Regions from separate parts of the Homo sapiens genome. Here regions 2 and 3 are each linked to region 1. Evidence: fine-mapped expression QTL. A gene starts in region 1. Each other region holds a variant in brackets. All regions are shown on one strand. Distances are from middle to middle.

Region 1 (2,753 bases):
GCATCCCCGGACCCTGGCTCGGAGGCCCCAGACGGTGCCTCTGGCTGCTGTGGCTCCAGCGGCTCGGGCTGCAGCTCAGCCGGCACGTCCAGGAAGGAGCGCCACTCGGTAAAGGTGTAGCGCACGGTCACGGCCCTGGGCCCAGGGCAGCTGAGCACCCGGCCGGAGCCCTTCACCTCAGCGCCCGAGGCCGTCGAGCACTGCACGCGCTCCAGGCACACGCGCTGCCGCTGCAGACGCTCGGCCGCGGCGCTCGGCCCCGGGAGCTGGAAGAGCGGCCGGAGCCGGGAAGGCGGCGCTGAAAGGGGCGCGGCCACTGCCGCCGCGGCCAGCAGCCCCCCGAGCTGCTCCAGGTCCTCGGCACGCATAGGGAAGCTTCGGAGGCGCGAGAGCACGGCGGGCGGCACCTGCGGCTCCTCCGCCTCGCTGAAGTGCTTCACGCTGGCCAGGCTTAGCCCCAGCGTGTCCGCGAACTGCACCCGCTTCTTGCACTTGGCGCAGCAGCCGCCCGGGCCGAGCTGTGCGTCCTCCGCCCCCTCGCCGCCCAGTGCCACCGCCTGTTGCTGCTGCTGCTGCAGGAACTTGGCCGCCTGCAAGATGGGGTCGGCGGGCAAGGAAAAGGAGCGCGCGCGGCAGCGGCGGCGGCATTCCAGCAGCTCCTCCTGCTCCTGGGGGGCGGCCTCTTCCTTCGGGGACAGGGGCCTATCCCCTAGCTGAGCGTCAGGACTCGGGGTCTCCGAAGCGCCACCGCCGTCGCCGCCACCCTGCACACAGGGGACCACCGGGGCGGGCAGCTCCTCGGCCGGCGGGGCCTCTCGGAAGGGCGCTGGTCCCGGCGCCTCCAAACTTAGCCGCGCCCCTATGGGCTCCATGACGCCGTTCGCCCCTGGACTTGCTCGGGCCGAACCGGGCCCCTCTGGAGACTTAACTAACTCCTCGGGCCGTGGAAGGAGCGCAGGGCTGCAGTTCAGGCTCGCCCTCCCCGAGGCGAGTCGCCCCAGGCTCGACAAGACAACGTAGTTCCACTTTGGAGCCTCCGGCTTTTAGCTGCGGCTGCCCAGGGCGAAGTGGGAGGAGGATGCGGGCCTGGGGCCGGCTCCGGGGCCACGCCGCCTCCCGGTTGAACCTGCCCGCGACGGGGGAGGGCCGGGGGCGGGGAGGCGCGGCCGCTGGGACACCTGGAAGCCGTGTTCCCGAGTGCTCCGGTGGAATGCGGGGGGCGACTTTCTGTCGTTCGCGGGCTCCCTGCAGCCCTCACCCGCACCCCCGGCGGGGCTCGCGTCTGTTCCGCTTCTTGAGTGCCTCGAAGTGGGGGTGCAGAGCTCGCGCTCAACCTTCAGAGACCCCCACGTGCACAAAGTCTTCCTGCCCATGAACTTGGCCTGACGGCTCTGCCCCCAGAGGGTCACTGAGCGCTCTCCTCTTGGCTGCCTCACGGGCTGGGGAGTCCCCGGTGCAGCGCGCAACTGGGGAAATCTTGCCTACGCAGAGGCTGGAAGGAGGCCCATTCCGCGCCGCCGGAGAGCGGGGAGCGCATCCCTTCCCTTCTGCTCCTGCTTTCCCCAAACTTCAGGGCGCCCCGGGTTCCAATCCCACTCGGAAGCCTGACTCGGTCAGGCGCGCTCCGCTCTGCTCTTCCGAAAGCCGGGAGGCAGGAGCCGCCGCCCCCATCTGCCCAGTGGCGGCGCGGGGTGGGCTGCGGCCAGACTGGGGCGGGGACCGTGTGGGGACGCGCCGGGGAGCGGCCATGGCCCGCAGCCGAGAGCGGCCGGAGGCCATTCGCGCCAGGCCCGGGAGCACGTCCCGCCCCTCCCCCTGTCCCGCCCGACGCGCCCGCGAGTCCGCGCCCCGGGATCCCGCAGGGAGGGCGGAGAGGGGGCCCCGTGGGGCCGGCGCCCACGCGGCACGCACCACCTCCCACCGCAACCGGACGCCAGCGCCCCAAGCACCCTCCCCGCCCACCGGGAGTGGGGGCGTGGCCCGCGCCGGACTGCGCTGTCACCGCCCTGCTGCTCCGGCCTTGCCAGGGGCCAAGGCCCGAACCTGAGGCCGGGGAGGGGTGGGGAAGCGCGTCGTGGTACCTAGGGATTGGGGGAACGTCTAAAAGTGGTGTTTTTCTTGTTTTGGTTTTAAGGCCACCCTGAGGGCCATCTAAGTCAGTGATTCTACTTCAGCATGCACGGACATCACTCGGGGGCCCGTTGTCACATCACAGGGCCCCACTCCCAGAGTTTCCTTCTTTCTAACTTTTTCGAGATAGGGGTCTTGCTATGCTGCCCAGGTTGGTCTCAAATTCCCGGCCTCAAGCAGTCCTCCCGCCTCAGCCTCTAAGGTAGCTGGGATTACAGGCGCCCCCCACTGCTCCCAGCTCCCTAGCGTTTGTGACTCAGTGGGCTTGGGCTGGGGCCTGGAAGTATTTCTAACAAGGGGATGCTGATGCTGGGCTCTGGGGACCGTATTTAAACCTATGTGGATGTGTATTCAGTTACTTATATAGAAAGTTGGGGATTCTAGAAACAGAACCACTAATTAAGAAACGTAATTAATTGGGGCTTCATAACTAAAACATGTCATGGTTTGGCAGAACTGAAAGGGGCCAGGGTTTTAGCCATGTTGGCAGAGGGCAGGCAAAAGAGATGGTGGGTGAGGAGCGTGTTAAGAGCTTACATTGATTGACTGAGCACCTACAGGATGTCCTGTCCATGAAATAGGAATCACATCATTCCTGCCTACATATAGGACACAACACTGCA
Region 2 (2,753 bases), 27 kb after region 1:
CTTTTTAGGGAAAGGGAGATGAGGAAATGTGGATGATGTTAGGTGGTAGGAAAGGATTTTTAGGATGATTCAATGAACTTGAAGAGCATACAATGGCCTGGGGACAAAGTCTGATGGGGCCGCAGAGCAGGCATGTCCAGGTGTGTTGACAGACCACAGTCCTCTTCCTGCGACAAGAATTCAGTTAATGGAAACTCAGGGAAGGGAGTCGAGTAGCTGTTCTTGGGCGGATATGAAACAATCCCCAAGATACAGAGTTAAGAAAAAATCAGAGAGGCCCAGAACTGTGTGAATACCAAGTTTTTATTAGTGCAATAAAAGGGGAGGAGTGTGCTTCTTATGTACACAGAGGACTTTTTTTTTTTTTTTTTTTTGAGACAGGGCGCTGCTCTGTTGCACGGGCCGGAATGCTGTGCCACCGTCATAGCTCACTGTGGCTTTGAACTTCTGGCCTCAAGGGATCCTCCCACCTCAGCCTCCCGGGTAGCTAAGACTACATGTGTGTGCCACCACACCTGGTTAATTTTTTAATTTTCTGTACAGACTGGGTCTCTCAATATTGCCCATGCTAGTCTTGAACTCCGGGGCTCAAGGGATCCTCCGGCCTCAGCCTCCCAAAGTGCTAGGATTACAGACATGAGCCACCATGCCTGGCCATATAGAGGACTTCTAAAAGGAAACACAAGAAGCCAGTAGCAGTGTCACCTCTGGAGACAGAGATTAGGAGAGCAGAGGTCTTGCTTGCTTTTCATTGTGTATGCTTTTCATCTCTTTCCATTTTCGTCATGTGCTTTTATTACTTTTTCAATTAAAAGCAGTTAATGATAAATCAGGGAAAACAAGTTGGAAGCAAGACATTTTTACCTTAAAGGAATATAAAGAACATTAAACTAGAAAGAGAAAATGGAAAACAAAGCAGCAAGCATTCAAGCATTATATATATATAAAAATAGTGGGGAGACACAGGGCTGTAAAACCGAATCAAGCATGGCTAAAACAGGAAAAATAACAGGGGAATAAAGAAGGCAGAAGGCAAAACATAGCAAGGGGAGGCAGACACAGCCAAGAGTCCTCTGAGGAGGGGGTAGGTTGGACACTGGGTGCCCATGGGTTCCCCCCGAGGGATGCCTGAAGCTGAGTCACATGGAGCTGGC[G/A]GAGGCTCAGAGGCAGAAAAGGAGGACAGAGAGAATCCAGGCTGAAGCGGGGAACCACTGTGTGGCGGGTGCAGAAGCTCCCCCAGGTCAACTCTCTGTGGCCCTGTGGCTGTGGTTTGGAGAACGATGGCTGGTGTGGAAGTGGATGTTAAGCCCCGGACCTTAGAACACCTGTTCCCACGGACATGAGAAAGCAGGCTTGGGACAGGCCGTTGAGAAAGCAGGCAGCACTCAGGGAAGGCCAGCAGCTCTGAACAGACATCTGCTGTCACACTGTGCAAGGCTTGGTTTCATTAATGACCCCATGTGACAAAAAGAAGCAGTGGCTCCCATGGTTTCATGGAACTCAGGTCCTCTCCTCTCTCCAGTCACAGAGAGCCCCGTGTAGACTCTTCATAAGGTGGAACCCGAAGAAGGAGACACTGGGTCTCGGGAAAATGGAATGAAGGAGATGTTGTTGTATTTGGAACCTAATGTGGAGGAATGGGCCATATAAATAACTGAATAGAGGCAGGGTGTGGTGGCTCATGCCTGTAATTCCAGCACTTTGGGAGGCCGAGGCAGGAGGACTGTTTGAGTCTGGAATTTCGAGACCAGCCTGGGCAACATAAAGTGACCCCATCTCTACAAAAAATAAGAATTAGCTGGACATGTGGTGGTGCACCCAGCTACTCAGGAGGCTGAGGTGGGAGGATTGCTTGAGCCCAGGAGTTCGAGGCTGCAGTGAGCTATGATTGCACCACTGCACTCCGCCTGGGTGACAGAGAGAGACCCTGTCTCTTTAAGAAAAAAAAAAGTGAGCGTTTCACTAGGAATGAGGGAAGTTTTTTTTTTTCTTTTTTTTTTTAGATGGAGTCTCGCTCTGTCGCCCAGGCTAGAGTGCTGTGGTGCGATCTCGGGTCACTACAACCTCCGCCTCCCAGGTTCAAGCGATTCCCCTGCCTCAGCCTCCCGAGTAGCTGGGATTACAGGCGCCATCATACCTGGCTAATTTTTTGAATTTTTAGTAGAGATGGGGGTTTCACCATCTTGGCCAGGCTGGTCTCGAACTCCTGACCTCAAGTAATCTGCCTGCCTTGGCCTTCTAAAGTGCTGGGATTACAGGCGTGGGCCACCACGCCCAGCCGGAATGAGGGAAGTTTGAACTCCAAAGCTAGAGTCCCTTGGTGTCTTCCGTCCTGGTCTCTTTTGTCCCAAAGTTGAGGGAAAGGGTGGGCAGGGAGGAGAGGGAAGGAAGAAGATTGGGAAGGCCTTGAGCTCCCCCTTCAGGTCGAAGCCCGTGCAGGCTTTAGCAATGACAGCAGGCTAGGAGAGCAGACCTCAGGGTGTGGCTCGTGGGCCCCCAGGTCTCCTAGAGCCTTTGGGGAAAGGGGGGTTGGGTTGAGAGGTTGAAACTATTTTCATAACAATGCTAAGACATGATTTGCCTTTTTAACTTTGTGGACACTTGCACTGATACCGCAAAAGCAATGATGGATAAAGCCCTACCCGTATCACTTAAAAATATCCTAGATAAACCAATAAAAATAATTAATTTTATTAACTCTCAACTCTTGAGTACATGTCTTTTCAACATTCAGTGACAAAATAGGAAGTATT
Region 3 (2,753 bases), 70 kb before region 1:
GAACATGTATAATACTTTGGAACATACACAATTCCGAGAGGTGTAACATACCAGAGACCTTTGCTTTTTCCTTTGCTTTGCTTAATGCCTTAAACTTTCCTAAGTGCTCCTCCGTACATTAACATGTGAGCCTTCAAAGTAGCTGGGAGAGGCTATCCATACGTTTTGCTGCCAAGAAAAACAGGCCCAACACTTTACAACAGAATAATGGCAGGACCAGTGTGAGAATCCTGGTTTTCTGGTAGGCTGGTTCCCTGACATCCTGGTTCAGCAACGTATCATCCTTAAAAGATATATAAATGTTGGCATGACTACCCAGCCTTTCCAACACCCACAGCCAGTGAAACCCAGTTACTGAAAAATGATGGAAAGTACCAGCATCAGTAATTTCCTTCTGTGTATATGATCTCAGTGGCTGAGGAATTGCCTAGTAGCCTAGTAAAGACGGACTCTGAAAACTGTCCTGTTTCTGTAGTAGTATTTATTAGTAATCCATCTCAGCCGGGCTCAGAGGCTCACACCTGTAATCCCACCACAATGGGAGGCCAAGGCAGGCAGATCACTTGAGGCCAGGAGTTCAAGACCAGCCTGGCCAACATGGTGAAACCCCCGTCTCTACTAAAAATGCAAAAATTATCCAGGCGGTGGCGCATGCCTGTAATCCCAGCTACTCAGGAGGCTGAAGCAGTAGAATTGCTTGAACCCGGGAGACAGAGTTTGCAGTGAGCCAAGATCACACCACTGCACTCCAACCTGGGCAACAGAGCAAGACTCTATCTCAAAAAAATAATAATAATAAAAGATCCGTCTCACAGTAGGCAGGGTAGGGGACTCAGTAATTCTGTACAGAAAAGAAGCAGTGCTTCTGTGTCACTCTTGCTCCGTCTATGCATCCCATCCACCATCCTGTTAGAACGGCATTGTTTATTAAAAGTCCCAGGCCTGGGGTGAGGAGACCTGAACCCTGATGCCCCCCTCTGACACTGTGTAATTTGGGTGAAGTTACTGCACCTTTGTGAATCCGCCTTTCTTTTTTATTTTTATTTATTCATTTATTTTTTGAGACGGAGTCTCGCTCTGTCGCCCAGGCTGGAGTGCAGTGGCGCGATCCCGGCTCACTGCAAGCTCCGCCTCCCGGGTTCACGCCATTCTCCTGCCTCAGCCTCCCGAGTAGCTGG[G/T]ACTACAGGCGCGTGACACCACGCCCGGCTAATTCTTTTGTGTGTTTTTAGTACAGACAGGGTTTCACAGTGTTCGTCAGGATGGTCTCGATCTCCTGACCTCATGATCTGCCCACCTTGGCCTCCCAAAGTCCTGGGATTACAGGCTTGAGCCACCGCGCCCGGCCGAATCCGCCTTTCTTTTTAATCTGTATGAGGTGTTGGGTTGTCTTCTGATGTTTCCATCTGTGTCCTGTGTGATCGTAGATACTGCATGCCACTCTCTGTCCAGCACGTGATGCCCTTTGCAACCTCCTTTCTCACCCACCCTGGGGCTTGGGAGCTGGAGATGGGGGAATAGGGGTGGTCAGTGAAATATTAAAAATCAGACTCCTATAGACACAGTTTGCAGGTGTTATATGGAGTTCCTTCTACTGTTTCATTCTACTGCATTACATTTTTATGTTAACTTAATAGGCTAATATTTTATGAACTTGTAAGATTGAATATATGGAATGAAATCAATGTTTCTGATAATTACTTGATGGGGTGGGGAGTTTCAGGAGAAAGTCATTTAAAACCTCCAGACTGATATTGATTAAAATTAGTGGCTTAAAGATTTAGAATATCTAATTTATAGGGTTTTTTTCTTGGTTGACTCTATAACTTAGGTAAAAAAATGTTTCCGTAGCTTTTATGATAACATTTAGCAGGTAATTTTCTTTACTAGATGTAGGGAAGAGCCAGCAATTTACAATCAGAGCATTCCATATATCCCTGTTTAGGGCGTTTCAGGGTTTATTGCTGCAATTTAGCATTTTTATCTGGGATGTTCAACTTCTAAGGGACGGGCTCTCTGTTTGCTGTTTTAAAATTATTAGAGTCTTTCATTGTATCTGTCTGTATTCACAGCATATATGGTCATTTCATTTGAGTGTTCATGAACAGCCCTCAATATATCAGTGATTACTTTATGTGTCGAGCACCGTACAACAGTGGTTGCCAGTTCTGACTACACATCAGGATGTATTTTTGAAGACTTACAGAGGTGATTTTGTTGAGCATCACTGTTGAAAACCACAGGTTTTCCAAGAGTGTCCGTGTGTATTTCACATGGCTTTACTCGTCAGGAGGTACTGGTGATTGCCTCTTTCACAAAAGAGGAAACTGAGGCTCTGGAAGGTTCTGTGAGTTGCCCCCGGTCACACCGAACAGCAGCACTTCATCAAGTTAGTTTCCAGATGTCCAGCTTCTCTCTGCCCAGCTGGGCAGGCACAAGAGACTTGCTGTGTTATGACCTGGTGTCTTAGTTTTGTTTAAGATTAGCAAGGGCGCCAGGTGTGGTGGTTCACACTTGTAATCCCAGCACTTTTGGAGGCTGAGGTGGGCGGGTCACTTGAGGTCAGGAGTTTGACAGCAACCTGGCCACCATGGCAAAACACCATCTCTCCTAAAATATAAAAATTAGCCAGGCGTGTTGGTGCACACCTGTAATCCCAGCTACTCAGGAGGCTGAGGCAGGAGAATTGCTGGAACCCAGGAGGCGAGGCAGAGCTGAGATCACACGACTGCACTCCAGCCTGAACGACAGAACGA

What was found.
Region 2: its variant is fine-mapped to the expression of PPP1R3G in tibial artery (GTEx, PIP above 0.99).
Region 3: its variant is fine-mapped to the expression of PPP1R3G in whole blood (TOPMed, PIP above 0.99).

The regions. Positions count from the first base shown.
Region 1 is chr6:5,083,605-5,086,357 of GRCh38, reverse strand. It overlaps PPP1R3G (protein phosphatase 1 regulatory subunit 3G), which reads right to left and starts at 1,017. Exons shown (of 1, transcript NM_001145115.3): 1 at 1-1,017. The coding sequence starts at 872. All of the region lies in intron 3 of LYRM4-AS1 (LYRM4 antisense RNA 1), which reads right to left. It also overlaps a transcript of LYRM4 not described here. RefSeq lists silencers at 266-495, 526-575, 716-815, 1,066-1,245, 1,656-1,935 and 1 more and an enhancer at 46-735.
Region 2 is chr6:5,056,962-5,059,714 of GRCh38, reverse strand. All of the region lies in intron 2 of LYRM4-AS1 (LYRM4 antisense RNA 1), which reads right to left. It also overlaps a transcript of LYRM4 not described here. Among named protein-coding and RNA genes, the nearest start is that of PPP1R3G, 27 kb to the left of the region's middle. RefSeq lists enhancers at 2,192-2,251, 2,312-2,361. The variant G/A (reference allele first, on the strand shown) is at 1,155.
Region 3 is chr6:5,153,127-5,155,879 of GRCh38, reverse strand. The region is part of intron 2 of LYRM4 (LYR motif containing 4); the gene reads left to right. All of the region lies in intron 3 of LYRM4-AS1 (LYRM4 antisense RNA 1), which reads right to left. Among named protein-coding and RNA genes, the nearest start is that of MIR3691, 6.2 kb to the right of the region's middle. The variant G/T (reference allele first, on the strand shown) is at 1,179.